Regions from separate parts of the Homo sapiens genome. Here all the other regions are reported to be linked to region 5. The links are microRNA targets in miRTarBase. Many come from high-throughput screens and were not tested one by one. Region 5 holds a microRNA gene; each other region holds the end of a gene's coding sequence.
What was found. Region 5 holds the annotated microRNA hsa-miR-7155-5p (UCUGGGGUCUUGGGCCAUC, at 3,767-3,785, opposite strand). A microRNA usually pairs through its seed, bases 2 to 8, with sites in the 3' UTR of a target mRNA and lowers its output. Matches are read on the target gene's strand: a 7mer-m8 pairs with bases 2 to 8, a 7mer-A1 pairs with bases 2 to 7 and ends in A, and an 8mer does both.

Region 1 (5,100 bases), not on the chromosome of region 5:
GATCGCTACTGCTCCATTCCCGGCTACCACCGGCTCTGCTGTGTGTCCTGCATCAAGAAGGCCTCGGGCCCCAACCCTGGCCCAGACCCTGGCCCAACCTCACTGCCCCCCTTCTCCACTCCTGGAAGCCCCTTACCAGGACCCCAGGACCCTGCAGATGCTGCAGAGCCTCCTGGAAAGCCAACGGGATCAGAGGACCATCAGCATGGCCGAGCCACACAGCTCCCAGGAGCTCTGGATACAAGCTCCCCAGGGACCCAGCATCCCTTTGCCCCTGAGACACCAATCCCTGGAGCATCCTGGAGCATCTCCCCTACCACCCCCGGGGGGCTGCCTTGGGGCTGGACTCAGACACCTACGCCAGTCCCTGAGGACAAAGGGCAACCTGGAGAAGACCTGAGACATCCCGGCACCAGCCTCCCTGCTGCCTCCCCGGTGACATGAGCTGTGCCCTGCCATCCCACTGGCACGTTTACACTCTGTGTACTGCCCCGTGACTCCCAGCTCAGAGGACACACATAGCAGGGCAGGCGCAAGCACAGACTTCATTTTAAATCATTCGCCTTCTTCTCGTTTGGGGCTGTGATGCTCTTTACCCCACAAAGCGGGGTGGGAGGAAGACAAAGATCAGGGAAAGCCCTAATCGGAGATACCTCAGCAAGCTGCCCCCGGCGGGACTGACCCTCTCAGGGCCCCTGTTGGTCTCCCCTGCCAAGACCAGGGTCAACTATTGCTCCCTCCTCACAGACCCTGGGCCTGGGCAGGTCTGAATCCCGGCTGGTCTGTAGCTAGAAGCTGTCAGGGCTGCCTGCCTTCCCGGAACTGTGAGGACCCCTGTGGAGGCCCTGCATATTTGGCCCCTCTCCCCAGAAAGGCAAAGCAGGGCCAGGGTAGGTGGGGGACTGTTCACAGCCAGGCCGAGAGGAGGGGGGCCTGGGAATGTGGCATGAGGCTTCCCAGCTGCAGGGCTGGAGGGGGTGGAACACAAGGTGATCGCAGGCCCAGCTCCTGGAAGCCAAGAGCTCCATGCAGTTCCACCAGCTGAGGCCAGGCAGCAGAGGCCAGTTTGTCTTTGCTGGCCAGAAGATGGTGCTCATGGCCATACTCTGGCCTTGCAGATGTCACTAGTGTTACTTCTAGTGACTCCAGATTACAGACTGGCCCCCCAATCTCACCCCAGCCCACCAGAGAAGGGGGCTCAGGACACCCTGGACCCCAAGTCCTCAGCATCCAGGGATTTCCAAACTGGCGCTCACTCCCTGACTCCACCAGGATGGCAACTTCAATTATCACTCTCAGCCTGGAAGGGGACTCTGTGGGACACAGAGGGAACACGATTTCTCAGGCTGTCCCTTCAATCATTGCCCTTCTCCGAAGATCGCTCCTGCTGGAGTCGGACATCTTCATCTTCTACCTGGCTCAAGCTGGGCCAGAGTGTGTGGTTCTCCCAGGGGTGGTTGGACCCCAGGACTGAGGACCAGAGTCCACTCATAGCCTGGCCCTGGAGATGACAAGGGCCACCCAGGCCAAGTGCCCCAGGGCAGGGTGCCAGCCCCTGGCCTGGTGCTGGAGTGGGGAAGACACACTCACCCACGGTGCTGTAAGGGCCTGAGCTGTGCTCAGCTGCCGGCCATGCTACCTCCAAGGGACAGGTAACAGTCTTAGATCCTCTGGCTCTCAGGAAGTGGCAGGGGGTCCCAGGACACCTCCGGGGTCTTGGAGGATGTCTCCTAAACTCCTGCCAGGTGATAGAGGTGCTTCTCACTTCTTCCTTCCCCAAGGCAAAGGGGCTGTTCTGAGCCAGCCTGGAGGAACATGAGTAGTGGGCCCCTGGCCTGCAACCCCTTTGGAGAGTGGAGGTCCTGGGGGGCTCCCCGCCCTCCCCCTGTTGCCCTCCCCTCCCTGGGATGCTGGGGCACACGCGGAGTCATTCCTGTGAGAACCAGCCTGGCCTGTGTTAAACTCTTGTGCCTTGGAAATCCAGATCTTTAAAATTTTATGTATTTATTAACATCGCCATTGGACCCCAAAAGGTTGTGTGTGTGTTTCTTTTTCTCTCTCTGATTTATGGGAAGGGGACAATGAAGCCAGAGCTCGAAGGTTGAGGGCTGGGCTGTAGCAAGAGAACTGGGGGTGGGGGCGCAGCTCACTGTGGCTGTCTCCTGTCCCTCCACCTTTCCACCCATGCCCTGCTGCGTCACTGCCAGGTGGGACACAGGGTTGCCACTGGTTTCTTGGCTACTGAATCTCCTGTTTCCCTGAGGCCCAAGTTCCAGGACAACACTTTATTTCAGGTTATTGTGAAATTCTCAACCTGTTTAAATGCAACTAGAGGCCAGTGGGGCAGAGTGGCTCATGCCTGTAATCCCAGCACTTTTGGAGGTGGGAGTTCCAGACCAGCCTGAGCAACATAGCAAGATCCCGTCTCAACAAAAAATAAAAAGAACATTAGCCAGGCGTGGTGTTGCACGCCTGTGGTCTCAGCTATTTAGGAGGTGGAAGTGAGAGGATCCCTTGAGCCCAGGAGTTTGAGGCCACACTGAGCTGTGATTGCGCCATGGCACTCCAGCCTGGGTGACAGAGCATGACCCTGTCTCAAAAACAAAAAAGAACAACAAGAGGGGCTCTCTAAAGGAATCTTAGCAACCACAGAACAAAGAGACTGTCACTGAAAGCAAAATGACTGCAACCACTTTTGCCTTCTAAGCAGTGGCAGAATTTGTGTCATGGAGTAAAAGAATCTACACTGCTGGGCACTTAGAAAAGGTGAAGCTGGCAAAAGGGCTTCTTGTCATTGTGCAGAGCTCACTCCTCCCCTTAAGGCCGAGGAGAAAATGGTTTGGAGACTCCTACCCCCGTGGGGGTGGGAACACAGAGAGGGCAGCCTCTCCATCTGTCTTTGGCTGGGGGCTTTTTAGGATGCAGGTTGTCTAATATGTCTAAGGTTCAATTAAATTTCTGTTGCCATCTCCCCAAACATCTGGAAATGTCCACTCTCCAAATTGAGGGCTTTTTATGGGTCAGGATTTTTGCTTGTTTTGGTGGAAACTGAGAAAATGAAAGGATTCACGGGTGAAGATAGAGGAACAGCACCAAGGGCCCTCTTTCCATCGCAGCCTCAGAAACATCCCTCACTTCCTGTAGGAGCCCAGTGGGAAAGGCCATATGGGAATGGTCTCACCTCTTCCTGCCCTAAACGGTTTCCTGTTTGGAGTCTGGTGGGTGCAGGTGCCAGGGTGCCAGATTGCCTGTCTCTTCCCTGGAGGGGATTCTCCAGGCCACTCTGACTTCAAGGCTTTATCCACACCTGCCCCATGCTTGGCAGAGCCCTGCCGCAGTGACAGCCAGGTGCCCAGAGTCTAGCCTATCAGCCCCGACTGGCTTCCAGAGCCTTTGCCCTGGTCTGCCAAGCTTCCTCAACCCATAGCCAGGGGCCAGCACACCTGTCATTTTGGAGGAAGCCCCCTGAAGTTCCAGCATCTCCTTGCCCTTGGGGTCAGTAGGGACAGTGCTGCACAGAGTCACCCTTAGCCTCCTGTTCAAAGAGCCTGGGAAGTCCTCACCATGGCTGTCTTCTGTGTCCAGATGGCCTCCTTGAGGTTCCAGCCTGTGACTTCATTTGGGCTAGTAAGGCCTGAAAGCTCCTGGTGGAGAAGGGATCGGGGGGATGGCAAGGGTTTAGGGACAGCAGGAGACTTACCTTCCCATTCCTCCAGAGGAGAAAAGGGGCAATTGGAGCCTCATCATGTTCCTGGGCAATAGACTGGCCTCTGGGCCCTTTTTTGATTTACCCTCCTGGTGAAACTCCAGGCCTTCCACCTGAAATGACACAGCAGGCAGGGGAAGAGGGGAAGGCACAGAGCCTGGGCCATCTGACCTGGAACTCTGTGGGCTCTTCCAAAGAGCCCCTGCTCCCTACCTGGCTTCAGGAGACTGAAGGCTTGGGGGAAGGTAGGGGTCTGGGGGGAGGAGGGAAAGAGCAAGAAGGGGTGGAAATGTAGCTGGGGCAGTCCCAGGGACCCAGCTGCCACAGATTAGAAATCTCTGGGGCCTACACCACAAATCTTCTCCTTTAAAAAATTATGCAAGAAATATATGCTCATTATTGAAAAATTTTACAACCTGAGGAAAAAAAATCTATAATTCTACTTAGCAATAACCACTGTTAATAATTTAGTTATCCATTCCAGATGTGTGCATGTGCAAGATTGTTTGTGTCTGTACACACACACATGCACGCTGGGTGAGTATTATTAATACTATACACATACACGTCATCTGGGATCTTCTCCCCCTCCTACTCCACCTACAGCAATACAATAAGAACACGTTTCCATCCTGAGCTACGTTGAACTACGTATTTTTTTTTTTTTGACAGAGTTTCGTTCTTGTTGCCCAGGCTGGAGTGCAATGGTGCGATCTCGGCTCACTGCAACCTCTGCCTCCCAGGTTCAAGTGATTCTCCTGCCTCAGCCTCCCGAGTAGCTGGGATTACAGGCATGCACCGCCACTCCTGGCTAATTTTGGATTTTTAGTAAAGATGGGGTTTCTCCATGTTGGTTAGGCTGGTCTTGAACTCCCAACCTCAGGTGATCTGCCTGCCTCAGCCTCCCAAAGTGCTGGGATTATAGGCATGAGCCACCGTGCCCAGCCACGTCTTCATTTTTAATGACTGCACAGTACCCCACGGTATGGCTAGATGACCATTTATTTAACCAAATCCCCCAGTACCATAAACTTCCTGTACAGCCTGTGGAACCATGAGCCAACTAAACCTCTTTTATTTATGAATTACCCAGTCTCAGGTAGTTCTTTGTAGCAATGTGAGAATGGACTAATACAGAAAATTGGTACCAGAGAAATGAGGCATTGCTATAAAGATAACTGAAAATGTGGAAGCGACTTTGGAAGTAGGTAACAGGAAGAGGCTGGAACAGATTGAAGGGATCAGAAGAAGACTGGAAGAGGTGAGAATGTTTGGAACTTCCTAGAGATTTGTTGAATGTTGTGAACAAAATGCTGATAGTGATATGGACAGTGAATTCCAGGCTGAGGAGGTCTCAGTTGGAGATGAGAAATTTATTGAGAACTGTAGTAAAA
Region 2 (5,099 bases), not on the chromosome of region 5:
CACACCTGGCTAATTTTAAAATTTTTTTTAGAGATTGGGTTTTACCAAGTTGCCCAGGCTGGTCTCCAACTCCTGGGCTCAAATGATCTCTCCCCCTCAGCCTCCCAAAGTGCTGGCTGCACCAGGCCAGCCAGATTAGTCTTAGTTTTGCTTTTTTTTTGGACAGTCTCACTCTGTTGCCCAGGCATGGCTCATTGCAGCCTTGACTTCACTGGCTCAGGGGATCCTTCCACCTCAGCCTCCTGAGTAGCTGGGACTACAGGCGTGTGCCACACCTACTTAAATTTTGTTACTATTTATAGAGACGGGGTCTCCCTATTTTGCCCAGGCTGGTCTCAAACTTTTGGACTTACGTGATCCTCCTGCCTCGACCTCAGCCCAACTATTCTCATCTGGTGGGTGGAAACCTGCGGCTAGCCGCTTCCAGGATTGCTGGTCAGTGCACTTCTCTCTTATCTCTGCTGAAGGTCCTCTTTCCCTGAGGCTGTTTTTAATGAATAGTGTGTAAGCGTAAGCAAAGCTGTAATTATACTCAAGCAAACACAATTTTTCTTTAAGGTAGACTCAGTACTGTTATATTAGCACCCTCCTAGAAACCGAGCCCAGAGAGCTGCCTTGCCCCTTCTGCCATGTGAGGACGGAGCAAGACGGCACCATCTATAGACCAGGAAACAGCCCCTCCCCAGACACCGAATCTGCTGGCACCTTGGACTCCCAGCATCCAGAATTGGGAGAAATAAATTCCTGTTGTTGATAAGCCACTCAGTGTATGGTATTCTTTTTTTTTTTTGAGACGGAGTCTCGCTCTGTCACCCAGGCTGGAGTGCAGTGGCACAATCTCGGTTCACTGCAAGCTCCGCCTCCCGGGTTCCCGCCATTCTTCTGCCTCAGCCTCCCGAGTAGCTGGGACTACAGGCCGCCCGCCACCACGCCCGGCTAATTTTTTGTATTTTTAGTAGAGACGGGGTTTCACTGTGGTCTCGATCTCCTGACCTTGTGATCCGCCCACCTTGGCCTCCCAAAGTGTACGGGATTCTATGACAGCAGCCCAAACGGACGAAGATGTGCACTTGTGTGTGTGTGTGTGTGTGTGTTTTTTTTTTTTTGAGACAGAGTTTCGCTCTTGTCGCCCAGGCTGGAGCGCAGTGGCACGATCTCGGCTCACCGCAATCTCCGCCTTCTGGGTTCAAGAGATTCTCCTGCCTCAGCCTCCCGGGTAGCTGGGATTACAGGTGCCCACCACCATGCCCGGCTAATTTTGTATGTTTAGTAGAGACGGGGTTTCTCCATGTTGGTCAGGCTGGTCTCGAACTCCTGACCTTAGGTGATCAGCCCGCCTCGGCCTCCCAAAGTGCTGGGATTACAGTCGTCTGCCACTAAGCCTGGCTAATTTTTGTATTTTTTTAGAGAGGGGGTTTCACTATGTTGGCCAGCCTGGTCTCGAACTCCTGGCCTCTAGTGATCCACCCACCTTGGCCTCCCAAAGTGCTGGGATTACAGGCACGAACCACTGTACCTAGCCCCAGTGCACTTCAGAATCATCCTGTCAAGTTCCGCAATAAACCTGTTGGGGATTGTCAGTGAGCAACGTAGTTTATTGGGAGTTTGGTGGTGGTGGTTTGTAAAAAAAAAAAAAAAAAAAAAAAAAAAACAAACAACAACAACAAAAAACAGGCCATTCACAGTGGCTTGAGCCTGTAATCCCAGCACTTTGGGAGGCCTAGGTGGGAGGATCGCTTGAGCTCAGGAGTTCAAGACCAGCTTGGGCAACATAGTGAGACTGCGTCTCCACAAACATTTTAAAAATTAGTTGGGTGTAGTGACTCATGCTTGTAGTCCCAGCTACTCAGGAGGGTGGGATGGGAGGACTACTTGAGCCCAGGAGTTAAGAGGTTCCAGTGAGCTATGATAGTGCCACTGCACTCCCACCTGGGTGACAGAGCGAGACCCTGTGTCTAAAAAAGTAAAATGAAATGAAATAACAACAAAGCAACAAATGGATGTTAGATTTTAGCCAATATTCTGTCTATTGTGGGTGGGTTTTCCCCTGTCATCTATATTCTTCTCACTCTTCCCAGTTGAGGGTGCTGGGTGCTGGAGGGACCGCAGGGGGAAGTGGCTCTCTTGCTGTTTCTGTTCTGGACGGGGATGGTCAGCATGGGTGATGGTACTTTCAGTGCACATGATTTTTCTACAGCCTGGCTGCGCTGGGGATAACATTTCCATAGTCTTCTTTATTTTTTTCTGAGACAGGGTCTTGCTCTATTACCCCGGTTGGAGTTAGTGGCATGATCATGGCTCACTGAAGCCTCGACCTCCTGGGCTCAAGTGAGCCTCCCACCTCAGCCCCCAGAGTAGCTGGGACCACTGGTGCACACCACCACGCTCGTCTAAAGAATAGTTTTTGTAGAGATGGGGTCTCACTATATTGCCGAGGCTGGTCTGGAACACCTGGGCTCAAGCGATCCTTCTGCCTAGGGCTCCCAGCGTGTTGGAATTTCAGGCATGAACCACCACGCCTGGCCTCCGTAGTCTTCCTTTTTTTTTTTTTTTTGAGACGGAGTCTCACTCTTGTCACCCAGGCTGGAGTGCAGAGGCGGAGGTCTCCTCCGCCTCCCAGGTTCAAGTGATTGATTCTCCTGCCTCAGCCTCCCGAGTAGCTGGGACTACAGGCGCACACCACCACACCCGGTTAACTTTGTATTTTTAGTAGAGATGGGGTTTCACCATGTTGGCCAGCCTGGTCTTGAACTACTGACCACCAGTGATCCGGTTGCTTTGGCCTCCCAAAGTGCTGGGATTAAGGCATGAACCACTGCCCAGCCTCCATAGTCTTCTTGACACAGAAACCAAGCCTCATGCAGCCCACATGCTCTAAAGGGCTCCTGCCTCACTCCTTGTGCCTCAACCTCCCACTGCACATCCATGCCTCTGGTGGCTGCTCACCTGACCCCACCTCACAGGGGTGGCCTATTGCTTGGTCAGCAACTCCAGCCCAGCTCCTGCCTGGCCAAACCAGAGACTGTCTTTGCTGTCTGGTGGCCAAACTGCACGTTGTCCAGAGGTCTGACTCCTTCCAAGCTGGTCCTTTCTGGGTACTTTCCTTCAGCCCTAGAGTACCAAATAATTTCCTACATCTTACAGTTTACTCTTTAAAACGGTTTAGGCCGGGCACATTGGCTCACGCCTGTAATCCTGGCACTTTGGGAGGCCGGGGCAGGCAGATCACCTGAGGTCAGGAGTTCCAGATCAGCCTGGCCAACATGGTGAATCCCCGTCTCTACTAAAAATACAAAAATTAGCTGACGCAGTGGTGCATCTCTAGTAGCAGCTACTCGGGAGGCAGAGGCTGGAGAATTGCTTGAACCCAGGAGGTGCAGGTCGCAGTGAGCTGAGATCTTGACACTGCACTCCAGCCTGGGCGACAGAGTGAGACTCTGTCTCGGGAAAAAAAAAAAAAAGTTTTAAAATTGAGATATAATTCACAGACCATAAAATTCATCTTCCAAAGTTTTTAATTCATTGGTTTCTAGTATATTCACAAAGTTGTGCAACCATCATTCCACAATTTCATCATCTTCCAAAGAAAGCCCGTCCCTGTTAGCTGTCATGCCTCTTCTCTCTTCCTCCAGTACCTGGCAACCACCAATGTGCTTTGTCTCTGATACACAGATTTGCCTATTCTGGACATTTCACATAAACTCGTGATTGGCTTCTTTCACTTAGCGTAATATTTGTAGGATTCACTCAGGCTGTGGCATGCGTCAGAATTTCCTTCCTTTTTATGGCCAAATAATATTCCATTGTATGGACAGAACACACTTCATGTCTTAATTCATCTGTGGATGGACATTTGGGTTGTTGCTACCGTTTGACTTTTGAGTAATGCTGCTATGAACGCGGGAGCACAGGTATTGTGTGGATGGATGTTTTCAATTCTCTTGGGCATAGACCTGGGAAGGTTATACTTTTATTGATATTAATAGTTCTGATATTGGACATCCCTGCTGTGTGGTTTCACCTCTCATGGACTCTGACGGCTGCTGTGCCTTCTCTGCTCGGCAGGCGGTGCCCTGAGGCACAGGTGGGCGTCTGGGGCTGGAACTCTCGCTAGGCGCTACAACTTCCTCTCCTGCCCTGTGGCAGAGCCAAGCCCCTTGCAGGGCTGTTGCCAGCATGGGATGAGTCTATGAAAACACGTGGCACGCAGTAGGTCCACAGTTACCACTGGCAGCCTGGCAAGCCTGGCAGGGCCCGGACGGCAGATGCGCTTCGGTGCTGCTGTGAGTCTTGTGCTCTGCCTTAGGCAGAAAGTCCTGGGTTTGTGTTTTGTGAATGAATGACGCATGAGTGTGCCAAATATCCTTTACGTGACAGAAGAGGAGAGGGCTGGCTTGATTGAGTGTGGGGGGGAAGAACCTGGATCTTGTAATGTAATTTTTGTTTAAAAAAATTAGGGAAAAACCCCAAATATGACCATTTCCTGCCATTAGCCTGCAGATGAGCAGCTGACTCCCCAGTCCCATCCCTCCGCACTGCTTTTCCCTGTCCTGGGTCTGTTCTGTTACATGGAGTTCCTGGGGGAAGCCCTGGGGCCGGGGCATCTGCCCAGGGCTCACTGCTGTTGAAAGTGAATAAAGAACGTCCGGATTTCCTTTGGGTGGACGGTGATGATGGGGCCTCCTGGTGGCCTCGAGGGAGAGGTGGTGTCACCTAGGGGAACAGAGGTGATCTGTCCAGTGTGGCCTGGGATGCCTCCTCCCAGCCTCCCTCTCACCCCCTGCACCTGTCTACAGTCTGCTGTGGCTCCCAGCCTCCCTCTCACCCTCCTGCACCTGTCTACAATCTGCTGTGGCTCCCAGCCTCCTTCTCACCACACTGCACCTGGCTACAGTCTGCTGTGGCTCCCACCGTGGCAACGGCCTATGGCATCCCCTTCTGCCAGGACTCCTGTGGGCCTCTTGGCGTTTCTGCCCACCCTGAGGGCAATTCATAGGTTGGTCCTGGCCCTAGTGGCCTCAATTCCTCATGGGTGTTGCCCTCAAAGCCCAAGAGCTTTCTGAGACCATCTGGTGAGTCTGCCCTTGCCTCACCAGGCT
Region 3 (5,100 bases), not on the chromosome of region 5:
CCAGAATCCTTCACCCCATTCATTTCCCGCAAAGTTCCTGGAACCCTAGGTCTCCTGTTTCTCCCCAACCCTGATGAGCCCATGGCTCAGTGTTGATTTTCCTCAGTGATACACCAGGGTCTGCTGAAAAAGTGGCTAATTAAGACTCCCAAACTACTCCTGGCCTATCAAAACTGCTCCTGCCCCAGTCCCTGCCTTGCTCTGAGAAGGACATTTTATCTTTATCCTGGACCACCTTAAGTACTCACATGTCCCAGTTCCTCATGCCAGCATCTCTATCAGTCAGCTTCTGCTGTGTAACAAACCATCCTCAATCTTAGGGCTTAAAGCAATACTGATTTATTATTCTCATGACTTTGTGATCAGATGGGCAGTTCCTCCAGTCTGGGCCAGATCAGGTGAGGCTGGATGGTTTAGGGTGGCCTTACTCACGTCTGGAGTCTCAACCAGAACAGCTAGAATTCTCACCTCCTTCAGCAGATTCTCCCAGAGTCCCTCAGGGGCAAAGTCAACCACATGACCCACTCATGGGAATAGCTACAGGGAGCAGTGATCCCTAGGGAGCCATTGCTGGAACAATCTACCACAGCCTCTATATCTGTGAGCCTCTCACCTCCAGGCCATGCTGGTCACCAAATGCCAGACAATCATCTGGATCTTGCCAGAATGGCAGATTCACCCTCTGCCATTTTTTTTTTCCAAGATAGTTTTGCTCTTGTTGCCCAGGCTAGAGTAAGTGCAATGGTGCGATCTTGGCTCACCGCAACCTCCGCCTCCTGGGTTCAAGCGATTCTTCTGCCTCAGCCTCCAAAGTAGCTGGGATTACAGGCATGCGCCACCATGCCCGGCTAATTTTGTATTTTTAGTAGAGACGGAGTTTTTCCATGTTGGTCAGGCTGGTCTCAAACTCCCGACCTCAGATGATCTGCCTGCCTCGGCCTCCCAAAGTGCTGGGATTACAGACATGAGCCACCACGCCCAGCCTCCCTCTGCCATCTTAACTAAGCCTCATCTTTCCCTCCTGCCTGTCCCTCTCCCAGGCTGACCGCAGCACCCCCACTCCTGTACTACCATCCTGAACTCAGGCCCTCTGCCCCTCAGCGCTATCTGGCTAACTCTTTCTTGCTTGCCACACTAGCCTGGGAAACATCAGGCCTGGATCAATCCTCATGACCAAGTTCCCCAAACTCCTGATCAAACAGCAGCTGGGCCCCCAGCACCTCCTGAGTGGCAACCAATCTGCCTTCCCATGTGGGCTCTCCCTGTCCCCATGATGGCCAGGAGCTGTCAAATCTGACTCCTCCCCACTTTCTCTGAGCAGATGACTGGCCTCACGGTACCCCCTGCTTTACTTCAAAGTTCCCTCTGGCACATTTTATATCAATTGGTTGGTTTATATCTGTCTGCTTTTTAGAATTTAAGCTCCATGGCCGGGCGCAGTGGCTCACGCCTGTAATTCCAGCACTTTCGAAGGCTGAGGCACGCGGATCACAAGGTCAGGAGATCGAGACCATCCTGGCTAACACGGTGAAACCTTGTCTCTACTAAAAATGCAAAAAAAAAATTAGCCGGGCATGGTGGTGGGTGCCTGTAGTCCCAGCTACTCGGGAGGCTGAGGCAGGAGAATGGTGTGAACCCAGGAAGCGAAGCATGCAATGAGCCAAGATCGCACCACTGCACTCCAGCCTGGGCAACAGAGCAAGACTCCATCTCAAAAAAAAAAAAAAAAAAAAGAATTTAAGCTCCATGAGAATAAGGTAGTTTTTTGGTTTTTGTCTTTTGAGATAGGGTCTTGCTTTGTCACTCAGGCCGGAGTAGAGAGGCACAACCACAGCTCAAGAGATCCTCCCACCTCAGCTTCCTGAGTAGCTGGGACTACAGGCATGAGCCATCATGCTATCATGCTAAGTTTTTAAAATTTTTTGTAGAGATGGGGTTTCACCATGTTGCCCAGGCTGGTCTCAAACTCCTGGGCTCAAGTGATCCTCCCACCTCAGCCTCCTAAAGTACTAAATTACAGGCATGAGCCACCACACCTGGCCTGGTTTCTATCCTTTACTGCTATATCTTCAGCACTACAACTATGCCAGACATGTGGGGGTAGGGTTGGAGGGTCCCTCAATAAATGTGGTTTTGTTTTTGTTTTTGAGACAGTGTCTCCCTCTGGTTGCCCAGGCTGGAGTGCAGTGGAATGATCTCAGCTCACTGCAGCCTCGACCTCCTGGGCTCAGGTGATTCTCCCACCTCAGCCTCTCGAGGAGCTGGGACTAAAGGCACATGCCACCATGCCCAGCTAATTTTTTCTATTTTTTTTTTAGTAGACAGAGGGTTTCATGATGCTGCCCAAGCTTATCTCAAACTCCTAGACTCAAGCAATTTGGCCTCCTCGGCCTCCCAAAGTGTTGGGATTACAGGCGTGAGCCACCATACCCGGCCTAGTATTTATTTAATGCATGAACCAAAGAACAAGCCCACAGCACACAGAGCTCAGTGAGGATGGTATGTTAAGCTTGCTGTTACCTGCAGCCACTCTGTTCTTTACAGCCTCCTCCCTCCAGGACAGGAAAGGGCCTGAGGGCAGTCCCTGGGAATGAGCAAGACCTCAGGCAAGAGAGGGCATGGGGTACAAGCCCCTGGAGCCTCACAGGCGTCAGCTCAGAGTGTAGCCAGTCAACGCCCTGCATGTGAATAACCCACTGGTGGTTTGTTAAAAATCCCTTTTTGCAGGCTCCACCCCAGGTACCTGACTCAGAGGGCCCAGGAATTTTCATCATTAGCCTGCAGCGCACTGCATTTGAGTTTGACAAAGTTGTTCCACCGAGTCTTGGTGTGAGCTATAGGAGACAAGGTAATGCAGCCTCCATCCTCACCGTGGGGCACAGGTCATCCACCTTGGGTGACCAAGGACTGTAGGGAGCGGCCAGTGACAGACCTTGGGGAAGAAGTTGGGGAGGGGATAGGCTCCATGCTGACAAATCACAAAAGCTCAGGGCGTGAGTTAGGTGTGGTTCATCCATGGAACCTGCAGGTGCATGCAGCCCAGCCACATGGGCTGCGGGGTGCGGGGTGCAGGGTGGGAAGCACAGAGCCCCCGCCCCTCCTCGGCTTTAGATCAAGAACTGGGACACTGCCAGGACCAAGCACGGCATGCCTGCATGTGAATGGACAGGAGTAGGGGGACTGTAGGCGGGAGCTCAGCAGGGAGAAAGGGGTGTGTCTGAGGCCAGACACATCTGAACTCTGGCACCCTAATTAACTCAGTCCCCATCCCTCTAGAGTTGGCCGCATCTCTTGCCCCAGGTGAGGACCTGCCCCAAGTCTGCTCAACCTCTGCCCACAGGGATGTTCATGTGCCTGTCCCATGAAGCCTGCTGCTGAAAACATCAATTCCTCATTTAGACATTCTCAGACTTGGCATCTTCCCCTCTTCAATCCCCAGTGACTCTTCCCAACCACCTGCCAAGCACTGTGCTCTGTAGCCACAACCCTAGGGATTTAGGGCCACAAGGGCAGAGGCTCTGGCCCATCCTGGCCTCCTGCTCAGCCTTGGCCAATGGGGCTAGAGGGTTCTGCCCAGCTGCCTTCACCCCTCTTCCTTGCTTACTGGTCTGACCTGGGGGCCACGCTCAGCTTGAGGCAGGGGCTTGTTAATGGGCAGGTGAGCCACCCAAGGCAAGGGCCAGGCAAGGCCCTACTGCACCAACCCATCGTCCTCCTCCGCCCCCAGTCTCTGCCCACCCCCGCCCAACCCCATGGCTATTAATACTCAGAGCTTTGCAGAGATGCCCACTGGGTGCAGAGACGAGAGAAATTGCTCTCATCTCATTGTGCCCCTCTGTGGAAACAGGGTCAAGGGCTCAGGCCTGGGCTGTGCCGATAAGGCTGGCCTCTGAGGATGAGCATTCAGGTCCCTATATCCCAGAAGAGGCCCCTAGGTCACCAGGGAACCATGAGCAGGGCCCAGTAGAGAGGCAGAGTCCAGACCAGCACAAAGAGAGAGGCAATTTTATTCTTCCAAAAAAATGCACCAAGAGAGGGTGAGCACAGGAGCACCCCTGGCCACATCCCCCATCCTAAGCAGGGTCTGAGATGAGGCCAGGCCTGACGTGGGCTTGGGAGAAGCTGACGGAGCTCCCTGTGGCCTTGGGGAGGGAACCAGGCAGACCTGGAAGTGGAACTTTGTTGTTAGCACCAGGAGCCGCCCACAGCTGGGCTCGGCAACAGGGCAGCACATGGCCCTGTTGCCTCCACCTGAGAGTCTGGGGAGGGGCTGGTGGCAGAAGGCTCCCTGCAGGAGGTCACCTGAATGACTCTCAGATTCACAGACCCCCTCTGCCCCCACAACCCCTGTAAACATGAGAATGGGCTCGTGACACCCTCAACACCTCAGGACAAGATGAGGGTCCGAGATGTGTGGCTGGGCTTCAGGCGGCCCAGGAGCTGCCGGGCTTTCTCCTGCATGAAAAGCTGGTCCCTGGTCCCCCCGCAGGCCACCGTCTTCCAGGCACTGGACATCTGGGAGGAGGCAAGAGGGTTACCATCCAGGCAGGGACTATGTGTTCCCAACAGACCCTGGTGATCCTGGCCAGGGAAGGGTAGAGTTATAAGCCTCCCTCCCCTAGAAGCCAGAGCCTTCTTATTCTCTCTCCACATTCCCTGTGACCCTGGACAAGTCACTTCCTGGCTGTGGGCTTCCTCAACTGTAAGTAGGACGCTGGACAAGGAGACATGGCCATGCACTGCCCGCCCCGTGCAGCACCAGCCTCGAGGAGAAGCCACAGCCAGGAGGCGGGTGAGAAGGAGCAGTGAGACGGGTCAGCAGCCTGAAGCCAGCCCCTGCTTGAGGACAGACATGTACTAAGCAAACCAAATACAGGGATAATGACTTAGTTACAAGTGAAACCCAGGCCACAAAAGAGAGAATGGCAGAATGGGGGTATCTCTACAGAATGTAGGGTCAGAGAAGGCTTACCCCTAAGGAAGCAGCATTGAGACTGAAATCAGAAGAGTAAGTTAAGCAAATGCAGCCACGGGAAGTAGCAGGAAAAGCACCCAGGCAGAGGAACAGCCTATGCAAAGGCCCTGAGCTAAGAAGGCGGG
Region 4 (5,100 bases), not on the chromosome of region 5:
ATTCTGAGGGCAAGATCCTGGTCTCAGACACGAGGAACCACCGGATCCAGCTGTTTGGGCCTGATGGTGTCTTCCTAAACAAGTATGGCTTCGAGGGGGCTCTCTGGAAGCACTTTGACTCCCCACGGGGTGTGGCCTTCAACCATGAGGGCCACTTGGTGGTCACTGACTTCAACAACCACCGGCTCCTGGTTATTCACCCCGACTGCCAGTCGGCACGCTTTCTGGGCTCGGAGGGCACAGGCAATGGGCAGTTCCTGCGCCCACAAGGGGTAGCTGTGGACCAGGAAGGGCGCATCATTGTGGCGGATTCCAGGAACCATCGGGTACAGATGTTTGAATCCAACGGCAGCTTCCTGTGCAAGTTTGGTGCTCAAGGCAGCGGCTTTGGGCAGATGGACCGCCCTTCCGGCATCGCCATCACCCCCGACGGAATGATCGTTGTGGTGGACTTTGGCAACAATCGAATCCTCGTCTTCTAATTGCATTTCCTAGGTTTCTGTGTTTGGGGTGTGTGTGCGTGTCTCTCTCTCTCTCTCTCTCTTTCTCTTTCTCTCTCTTTTTGAATTTCAAAGAAGAAACAGTCTCAGGGAAATTTCTTTTTTCTTTTTTTTTTTTAAAGAGAACAAGAAAAGTACAACATTGCTTAAGTCCTACCTCATCTTTATTTTTTTACAGATGAATGTACTTATCTTTTCTGCAGGGATTGAGCCTGTGAAGTGATAATTTCTATCTACCTCATAAATCTTTACATTTCCTTCTGCAACAGGCCCTCTTCCCCTCCTCAGTGGAGTTTGCATTTCCCTCTTCCCCTGCGTGGGGCATGATATGCACAAGCCTGGCATCTGTATGGCTGGGAGGGCACTGGATGTGTGTGGTGGGGTGTATTCTGTAGATTGAGCCAAGGAAACACAAAAAAAAACTACTAAGTAAAAAAACAAAAAACTATAAAACATGGAAAAAATAGGATTTGAAATGCATAATTATAGAATACCTGTGTTCTTGAGAATACTGTTTATATGGGGTTTAGATTATGTTGTGTTGTTTTGATCTTTTTGGAAAATCTTCTCTTTTTAAATGCTGCAACAGAGAAATTTCCTCTGTTCTCTGTTTATACCTCAGTGTGTTTAACATCCTCTTCTGCATCGTTTCTTGATCTTAGACGTTGTGGCTGTGGCTTGCTAGCCAAGAAAAGCAGACCCTTCATATTTTAGGGTATATAATCTTTGTTTCTTTTAAGGGAGGGTGTGTGCATGTTTGTTTCAAAGCCATCTTGCACCCAAGTAGTAAAGCTGAAAATGACACACTGCCTCCCAAAGAACCTCTCCTTTTCACACTTTGGTTTCTTAAAAAAGTATATAGATGGTAGCTCAGGATTTTTGATTAAACATATTCTCAAAAGTTATGCTTTCTTATTTTGCTGTTAGGTTATAAAGGGTTAAATGGAAGGAAAAAGGAAATTAACCTCGTTCTCAGAGAGAGGGTTTTCAGGCATGGGCTGACGTGGACATGAATGTGGGTGGACATGCGTGTGCTGAGGGAGTCAGGGAGCACATTAAAGAACAAGGCACCCCCAAACTATAGGAACTCCACAGAAAGGGCAGGGTCTGCCCTGACCCGCGAGTGCATGTTGTTCTGTAGTGCTAGGGGTTTCTTTTCCTAAGAAGAGTAGGCAAAGGAAAGAACTTTTATTTTACAAGCACAATTTTTTCCTGCTTTGAAAGTTCAGGGAAATAGAAGGTTTGAAAGTCAAATTAATACCAACAGCCCAGTCCCACACCCTCTGCTTGGGTCACTTTTTATAGGATTGTTTGCACCCAGGCCATGCTTTAGGACCTCATGGTTAACATGAATCCCCCCGCCCCCTCTCCCCCCAAGGCCTTTGACCATAAAGGATCTAGAAACCAAATTGTCCCAACCTGAAATGTAGGATGTAATGTCTTTTCTTAAACCTGTAACTCGGTACCAAAGAATGAAAATTTAAGGCTCCCACTGCAGAACTGTGGGGTAGAATCTGTGTCACTTTACAGGATTGGTTGGTTGTAAGCTGGACTTGGGTACAAAACTTGTGCTTCTGGGCATTGTCTGTCTTTCAAGTGCAAAGCAGATGTAGCTGATACCCTGCTTGTCAGAACCCAGTGGGTTCCTGCAATGCCCCAAATACTGAAATAAGAACCAAATTCTGGAGGAGCCCTCCTCAGGGAAAAGAGGGACTCTCAAACAAACGTCAGTGACTTACAAGGGAGACCTCTTGTTTAAAGACTTATGGATCAACTTCTGTTCCTCTGTTTAAGAGAAATTTCTATTGCAAAATGGGTATCGTTTTAAATGAGCAGAACAGATTAACAAATGGAGCAATTTGTTTCTGTTATCCCAATAGAAAAGGAGATGATGGGGACAGTGTGACAAGTCAATCAAGTTGCTTTTCCCGTACACCTCTTTTGGACGTTTAATTTACTACTACTACAAGCTACTCTGTCTCTTCCCATTGCTTTAATTCTAGGGTTTCTGAGTGACCAAAATGGGAAGGAAAAAAAAAACCTCATCTCACAGAGGAGAACTGCATGCAATAAAAGATTCAAAAGTTGGAAAGTAGCTTCAAACTGCTGCTGGCTCCCAGCTGCTGTTACAGGGTGGGAAGGTGTTAGGAAATGTTGTTTGTTAGAAGCTCCTTTTACTGTAGAATTTAATAGTGAATCCTTCCCCAATGCCTATTCAGTTGCCTTTTGGCCGTTAAGCTCTAAGTTCTTTGGTAAAGAGTTAATATAATTAAACATTTTTACTGTTTTCTATTTTGGAGTAACTTGGTGCTGATCTTCCTTCCCTTTCCCCAGCTGCCCAACAAGCCACCCTTTAAACACCAAAGACAACTGGTTTTAAATGCTTGAAAAAAATTTTATTGAGGAGATGGATCTTGATTAAAATCTTTTCATCATCATTTTCATTCTGCTCTTTTCTTTCTAATTTCCCCAGATGTAGGAAAATTTTGGGACCTGAATGAGAAATGTTCTTGGTGCATAACAGTAACTAGAGCTCCTTATTTGACATTTTACTATGGATGTGATCGAAAAGCCAAGATTTTCGCTCCATGGCTGAAATTATCAGGTCTTAATTTACAGACTTGTAAATTTGCAGGCTTAGAGCAACTAGAACTATCCCCTGAAATAGGTGTGTAGGTCAGAGATACTACCTCTTTGTCCTCAGTGGTGGTATATCTATCTCCTTACCTTTCTGTACCCAAAATGGTGCATGACTGGTATTTGAGAAACATGGTCACATTTGGAAAGCTTTTGTTTTTAAAACATTGGCGGTTTTTCCTGCCCGTGGTTGACTCCTGACCCATAGGGATTGGTGCGAAGCACTTTGGAGAGTGTTTATTGTATGATGTGAAATGTTCTAAATCAAAGAAAGATGATAAAAGCCAACATTTGGCAGTCCCTAGTGTGAAACTGTGAAAAGTACCTGTGTTTAAATGCATAATCTCCTGCCCGGGTAATGCCAGGTAGCCAGGAGTTGGGTCAAAGAAGGGAGTCGTCATCCTGATGGAAAAAATAAGGTCCTGGGTATTATGAGGTAGGAGAATAAAAAGGTTTCTGGGGAGTAAGTATGACAATTACTAGTCCCCATGGAGGTCTGATCTGGTCAGGTGGCAAGGGTTGGGTGGGGTATGATGTAAGCTCAGTTTATGTGTGGAGATGCCCATTGGGTTTGGATATATAGGTTTGAGTATTGAGATGTTTAAAGGACATCTAACCCATAGGTAAAAACTACTTTTGCTTGACACTGACTTAACATTTCAAAAGTGTTATTTTTGGTCCCAAGATCTAATGCTGTCTCAGAACATGTGCCCTGTTGTGGCTGCAAGTGGCACTCAAGTTGACTAGAGCACAGTGACCTGGGTTGTACCCCAAGTGCACTAACTCCTCAATGCCCTTTTAAGTCTAACTTATTTGGGAAACACATAACAAAGGGTACCATAAACCGAATCCAAATTACGTGTTGGGCCAAAAATGTTGCCAGAACTGAGGCACTTTGTGATGGAGTTGCAAGAGATAGCTTGAGATCGGCTCAGTCTGATTTATTCTAGTTAAGCCAAAGCTTAATTATTTGAGGAGGAAAGTCTTTTAGGCTTGAAGCAGCAAAATACTGTTTATATATGTGTTACCTTCCTCGTTGGAAGATTCTACGATTGCTCTGTTCTGGTAGGTGGTGAAAGATATGCCAAAGTTTTAGGCTTGTTTTTCTGATCTTATTTTTTTAATCCAGTGGTGCCAAAAAGTATTTAGGGTATGTTTAAGGTATATTTAAAACATCACTCTGAATGAGTTTCCAACAGTCTGGGGCTGTATAAAAGTCACACTCTTGTACTTGCAGGTGATGGTGTCACAGGGCCAGGGCCTCCAGAGCTCTACGGCTTTCTCTGGTTTTCTATAGGGCCAAGGGCACAGGACGCAGCATTCCAGACCACACTGACTGCTTTTGCTGAGTTTCTACCTCACTTGTGGCAAGTCATCTACCTCATGTTAGCATCTGACAGGTCTCAAAAAGAATAGTATTAATCCAGTGGGCAGTGGGTGGGAGTGGGAAGCTACCTCTAAAAGAAATGTTACCATAAATCTACAACTGATTTCTCCCAGGAGAAATGTTCTACTTACCTTGAAAGAGAAATGTCAGGCAAATGTAGTCATAAATCCAAGTAGTTCTTAGCAATCTGGCTTTTCCCCCTCAAAAAGAATTATGCATACCATTACTGTTGTTCAGTATTATGAAACTACTGGTTAATCTGACCTATTGGAGGACTTAACTACAAATAAAGACCTTTAGGTCTCTTTCTCTTCAAGAGAAAAATATTTTATCTGTATTTCGAATGTCTGCAAATAATACCCTTTAGGAGCAATTCTAAAGGTCTAGATCTTGGAAACATCAAATATTTGAAGGGAATGAGAATCCTCTTGACTTCATGATTGTATTTGTAGCTCTCTGGACCCGGCAGGACGTTCATCACCATGATGTTGCAACAATCACTGTTTTGACTGAGCAGTGACTGTTGAAGTGTGTATTGCTCTTTTGTTTTGTTTTTATTTTTTTCTACCAAAGGTA
Region 5 (5,100 bases):
AAACAAAAAACAAAAAAAAACTAAGATGTCATCGATTATAAAAATGTCACTAAGAAAAGAGAATGCTGCCAGTTAACGATGTCCCAAGGTTCTTTCATCACTAGAATTTTTCTTTTGTATTTCTCGAAAGAGCTCTGTTTCACTTAAATGTAGATTCTTATCATATATAATTCTCATGCACACATAAAAAGGATAATAGAAGCAAAATAAATTGGTTACCATGTTCAGAAAACTCCTTCACATTTAGAGTCCAACTTGTTTGAATCATTTTTGGTCTGAGAGTCGTGATGTCTGTGTCTGCCTGCCACCTCCTTCTCTGAGTCCTTGAGAGTTCTACGGAGAGCAGTACTGCTCCAAACATTCCATAAAACAGCCAGGCGCTCTTAAGCCAGCTTTACAATTGTGCAGATGAAGTGGAGCCGAGTTTTCACTCTGCTCTAGGAGTGTCACTGACAGGCCGGGCGTGGTGGCTCACACCTGTAATCCCAGCACTTTCAGAGGCCGAGGTGGGTGGATTGCCTGAGGTCAGGAGTTCGAGACCAGCCTGGCCAACATGGTGAAACCCTGTCTCTACTAAAAACACAAAAAAGCATCTGGGCGTGGTGGCAGGTGCCTATAATCCCAGCTACTCAGGTGGCTGAGGCAGGAGAATTGCTTGAACCCGGGAGACGGAGGTTGCAGTGACCCGAAATTGCACCATTACACTCCAGCCTAGGCGACAGACACAGCGAGACTCCGTCTCACCAAAAAAAAAAAAAAAAAAAAAAAGGGAGTGTCACTGACAAGCCTGGTTCCCTTCCCCTGGGGTTTCCCACCATTTGAGTCCCAGGGCTAAAAAGGGTTCTGCTTGCCTCTAGGATTTCTTCCAAGCTGCTGACACTCTTCTGAAGGATTTGATGCTGGTGCTTTTCAGGTGTGGGTCCTGACAGTGATGTTGGGACGGCAGCTAGCCAGACAGCAACTGTACCATGTAAACTCACTTCAGAGGTGTAGAATGGGGGCTGCGTGAGGCAGCTCATGCCGTCATCTCAGCCCTTCAGGAGGCCAAGGCGGGAGGATCACTTGAGCCCAGGAGTTCGAGACCAGCCCGGGCAACACAGCAAGACTCTGTCTGTACAAAAAACAAGCAAAATAATTAGCCAGGTGTGGTGGCACACACCCGTAGTCCCAGTTACTCAGAAGGCTGAAGTAGGAGAATTGCTTAAGCCCAGGAGGTTGAAGTTGCAGCGAGTTGTGATCTTGCAACTGCACTCCAGACTAGGTCACAGATTCAGACTCTGTCTCTTAAAAACAAAACAAAACAAAAAGTGAAACGTGAACATTAAGCATCTTGGAATAGATAAAACATGCATAATTTCCAATCTTTTTGCTGACCATGCTTCCAGCTGCCTCAGAGCAGTTGCACATTCTGTTCCTGCTGCCTGGAATACCCTCCCTTCCTTTCCACTTTGCCCTGTTAACCCAGCCATCCCTGATCTCATGCGTACTCCAGGATGCCTTCCCTGATCATCCTGCCGAGGTCAAATCCCCTCCCCTTCATAGCACCTAGTATGGCTACAACAGTCTCGAGTGTATAGAGGATGGGGTGGGGTGAGGTCACAGGAATGATGCTCCCTTCTATCTGGGGTTCAAGGGAGGCTTCTTGGAGGAGCATCTGAACCAGGCTTCCCAGGGGATGTGGTTTGGGTAACTTTGAGAAATACTGAAGGGAAAAGAAAGAACGCTGTAGTGAGTGAAGCCTGGCATTTGGGAAGATGGGTGTGTGGGTGACCAAACTCACCACGCAAGGCCCAGAGCCCTTTTGAGGCCCTCGAAGGTCCCAGGCTGGGGTCATCCTCTCCAGTTTCAGTTTGAGAAAACAAGGCCCAGAGAGGTGAAGGGCTGTTCGGTCATTGCCCATGGAGCCAGGGGAGCTGTGGGCCTTCCGCCGCCAACCTCTGGGCTAGCCCTGCAGAGATGCTAGGAGGATGCAGGGAGGTGAGGTGGGGGCTGAGGTAGGACTCAGACTGCCCAGGCCCGCCTGCACCCGGAAGGAGGAAGCTGCACAGGGTGTCTGTGGCTGGCCCCGGGATCCCCCACTCGGGGACTTCCTCTTCCTCTCAGGGCAGGTGCAGCTGCCACAGTGAGACGGGCACCCCGACCCGGGCATGGAGGGGGGCAAGGGGCCCAGGCTCAGAGACTTCCTGAGTGGGAGTCTGGCTACCTGGGTGAGGGGGCAGGTGGCAGCGGGTTGGGGAGGGGAAGTGAGCCCCAGCCAGGGGCTGGTGTTGGCGCTGGCCGGGGGAGGGTGAGGCAGAACCAGGCCGGAGGGGAGGGCTGGGTTCAAATGTGGGGGATGGAGATATGGTGTGGGGGGCTGTGGTGAGGGAAGAGGGGACAGAGGCACTCAGAGGACGGGTGAGAAGGGGTGCTTGGGCTCACTGGGGCAGGTCGGAGGGGCTCAGGGTTCACTCTGCTGGTCGGCTGACCCCTCTGGGCTCCTCACAGGCGCTGGGACTGGCCGGGCTGGTCGGGGAGGCGGAGGACTCGGAGGGGGAAGAAGAGGAAGAGGAGGAAGAGCCGCCCCTTTGGTTGGAGAAGAGATTCCTGCGCCTCAGCGATGGGGCCCTGCTCCTCCGGGTGCTGGGCATCATGTAAGGGGCATCGGGCCGGGGCGGTGGCGGGGAAGGATCTGAGAGGAGGGGAAGCGGGTGGGCGGAGCCTGATGCTCAGTGGGCGGGGCCTGAGGGACGGTGGGCGAGGCCTGTTGACGGGAGGCGGGTCCTCGAGCCCACCTCCGGCTCATAGTGCCCCCAGCTCCCGAGGGGGACCTCGGATGCTCAGAGGCCTTGACGGACCTGCTGCCTGGCGAGTGTGGAACCTGAACCACCTGTGGGGCCGACTGAGGGACTTCTACCAGGTAAGGGGTCTCGAGGGAAAGGCGGAGACAGGAGGGGAAGAGGAGCCCCTTCGGGAAGGCGCCTCATATAGTCTGCCTCTCTGCCTCCAGGAGGAGCTGCAGCTGCTGATCCTGTCGCCACCCCCAGACCTCCAGACATTGGGATTTGACCCTCTCTCAGGTGCTCTCCCCACCCACACCCTCCTGCCTCTGCCCCCGCACTACTCTACCTTCCCCGCCCCAGTTAACCCCTTGTGGCATGTGCCTTGCAGAAGAAGCGGTGGAGCAGCTGGAAGGCGTTCTTCGGCTACTGTTGGGAGCGTCAGTACAGGTGAGCCGGCGGTGGGAAGGAAAGGTTAGGGTCGAGCTTTGGCGGTAGAGGAGGGAGATCCTGCACCAGCTCCCCTTCCTGTCTCCCCTCAGTGTGAGCACCGGGAACTCTTCATCCGCCACATCCAGGGCCTCAGTCTCGAGGTCCAGAGCGAGCTGGCCGCTGCCATCCAGGAGGTACTGAGACGGTTCGGCAGCCCAGACTGGTATGGCACCTGGGACGCCCTTGCCACACCGCGGCTTCCACTGAACTGCTCTTCCTGCGCCCCAGGTGACCCAGCCGGGGGCCGGCGTGGTGCTGGCACTGTCTGGGCCAGATCCTGGGGAGCTGGCACCTGCCGAGCTGGAGATGCTGTCCCGGAGCCTGATGGGGACACTGTCGAAGCTGGCACGGGAGCGTGACCTGGGGGCCCAGGTAGGGGCAGCAGGGGCATCGTGGACTCAGGTTGGGGAACTGGAGGACCATCAGGGAGCCGGTTGTGCAAGGGAGATGGAAGTTTGGGGCCCAGGCATGGGGTTGTGGTCTGAGGTCTTGGGCCATCAGTGATGTCACAACCAGATGGCCCAAGACCCCAGACCACAACCCCATGTCTGGTGTTGTGGTTGGGGGTCGATGTGCAGAGGCATTGGATAAGTTAGTCCTGACCCTTGACCCCTGACCTACAGCGGCTGGCTGAACTGCTGCTGGAGCGAGAACCCCTCTGCTTGAGGCCTGAGGCTCCCTCTAGGGCTCCCGCCGAGGGCCCCTCGCACCATCTGGCCCTGCAGCTGGCCAACGCCAAGGCTCAGCTGCGGCGTCTGCGGCAGGAGCTGTGAGTGTGCGCAGCCTGGGAAGGGGACTGAGTGGAGAGGGGCAGATTAAGCCTGGATGGGACCCTAGCCCTGGTGGCTACGGGAGGGGTCAGGCCTGGGAAGGGCTGGGGGTTGTGGGCCCCCAGACCCTCCCTAGACTCCCCTTCCCTCCAGGGAGGAGAAGGCCGAGCTGCTGCTAGACTCCCAGGCCGAGGTGCAGGGTTTGGAGGCCGAAATAAGAAGGCTCCGCCAGGAGGTGCGCTCACATGCTCCCCGCCACCGCGGCATTCCCTAACCTCCCCGCACCCGGTCCCATTGCCTCCCTCCCAACCCGGCTCCTTCCCGTCCCTAATCCCTCTGGCCCGCGGCTGGCTGTTCCCAGCTCCACACCGTCTGGCCCAGGCCCAGGCGCTGTCGGGACAGGCCAAGCGGGCCGAGCTGTACCGCGAGGAGGCAGAGGCGCTGCGGGAGCGGGCCGGCCGCCTGCCCCGCCTGCAGGAGGAGCTGAGGCGCTGCCGCGAGCGGCTGCAGGCGGCTGAGGCCTACAAGAGTCAGCTGGAGGTGAGGCGGAGACGGAGCCGCGGGGCGGGGCGTGCGCGAGGGGGCGGGCCAGGAGGAGGGGCGAGATTGGGTCCCGAGGGCAGAGAGGCAGGTTCTCTGGAGGGGACAGTCACAGGTGGAGAAATGGGTGAGGACAAATTCAGGGAGGTGGCGTCTGGGAAAGGGCCTCCAGAGGATGGGGCAGGTGTAGGGGAGTGGGGGGGCTGTGTAAGTGATGCAGCCTTGGAAGGAGGGCTGTTCCCGGGGGGGAGGGGCGGGGCATGGACAGAAGGGCGGGGCCTGCACAAAGGGCGGGGCCAGGGGCGAGGGAGAAAGTACCTGAAGAGATCTTGGTGGGAAGAAGATGGAAGGGAGTGGCGGGGCCTAGAGACTGATGGGGTGCAGGGTGGGGGAGGGAGGCAGGGTCTGTGACAGGCTGAGGGGAAGGAGTTTGGGACCCTCAGGCGCTGGAGTGCATGGGGGCTGCGTGGCTACCGGTTCTCCCTGCTCTCCCACCAGGAGGAGCGGGTGCTCTCGGGGGTGCTGGAGGCGTCCAAGGC

Region 1: the mRNA of ADAMTS14 is a reported target of hsa-miR-7155-5p. Seed matches in the 3' UTR shown: 7mer-A1 at 865-871, 7mer-m8 at 1,174-1,180 and 7mer-m8 at 1,462-1,468.
Region 2: miRTarBase lists MAN2B2 as a target of hsa-miR-7155-5p. Seed matches in the 3' UTR shown: 7mer-A1 at 4,092-4,098.
Region 3: the mRNA of MYBL2 is a reported target of hsa-miR-7155-5p. Seed matches in the 3' UTR shown: 7mer-A1 at 4,259-4,265.
Region 4: miRTarBase lists TRIM71 as a target of hsa-miR-7155-5p. Seed matches in the 3' UTR shown: 7mer-A1 at 2,968-2,974.

The regions. Positions count from the first base shown.
Region 1 is chr10:70,760,410-70,765,509 of GRCh38, forward strand. It overlaps ADAMTS14 (ADAM metallopeptidase with thrombospondin type 1 motif 14), which reads left to right. Exons shown (of 22, transcript NM_080722.4): 22 at 1-2,032. The coding sequence ends at 444. Among named protein-coding and RNA genes, the nearest start is that of TBATA, 22 kb to the right of the region's middle. RefSeq lists an enhancer at 1,377-2,146.
Region 2 is chr4:6,620,802-6,625,900 of GRCh38, reverse strand. It overlaps MAN2B2 (mannosidase alpha class 2B member 2), which reads right to left. Exons shown (of 19, transcript NM_015274.3): 19 at 2,539-4,713. The coding sequence ends at 4,616. Among named protein-coding and RNA genes, the nearest start is that of MRFAP1, 17 kb to the left of the region's middle. RefSeq lists a silencer at 3,258-3,451.
Region 3 is chr20:43,715,374-43,720,473 of GRCh38, reverse strand. MYBL2 (MYB proto-oncogene like 2) reads right to left here. Exons shown (of 14, transcript NM_002466.4): 14 at 3,992-4,515. The coding sequence ends at 4,387. Among named protein-coding and RNA genes, the nearest start is that of GTSF1L, 9.1 kb to the left of the region's middle. RefSeq lists a silencer at 1-59.
Region 4 is chr3:32,891,330-32,896,429 of GRCh38, forward strand. TRIM71 (tripartite motif containing 71) reads left to right here. Exons shown (of 4, transcript NM_001039111.3): 4 at 1-5,100. The coding sequence ends at 482. Among named protein-coding and RNA genes, the nearest start is that of CCR4, 58 kb to the right of the region's middle.
Region 5 is chr11:64,338,120-64,343,219 of GRCh38, forward strand. It overlaps MIR7155 (microRNA 7155), which reads right to left and starts at 3,785; the gene lies at 3,730-3,785. CCDC88B (coiled-coil domain containing 88B) reads left to right here and starts at 2,085. Exons shown (of 27, transcript NM_032251.6): 1 at 2,085-2,207; 2 at 2,488-2,633; 3 at 2,788-2,899; 4 at 2,990-3,059; 5 at 3,151-3,209; 6 at 3,302-3,385; 7 at 3,480-3,623; 8 at 3,875-4,020; 9 at 4,175-4,256; 10 at 4,403-4,561; 11 at 5,060-5,100. The coding sequence starts at 2,148. LOC102723878 (a long non-coding RNA gene) reads right to left here and starts at 2,673. Exons shown (of 4, transcript NR_188518.1): 1 at 2,422-2,673; 2 at 1,781-1,959. RefSeq lists silencers at 2,624-2,703, 2,724-2,773, 4,638-4,932.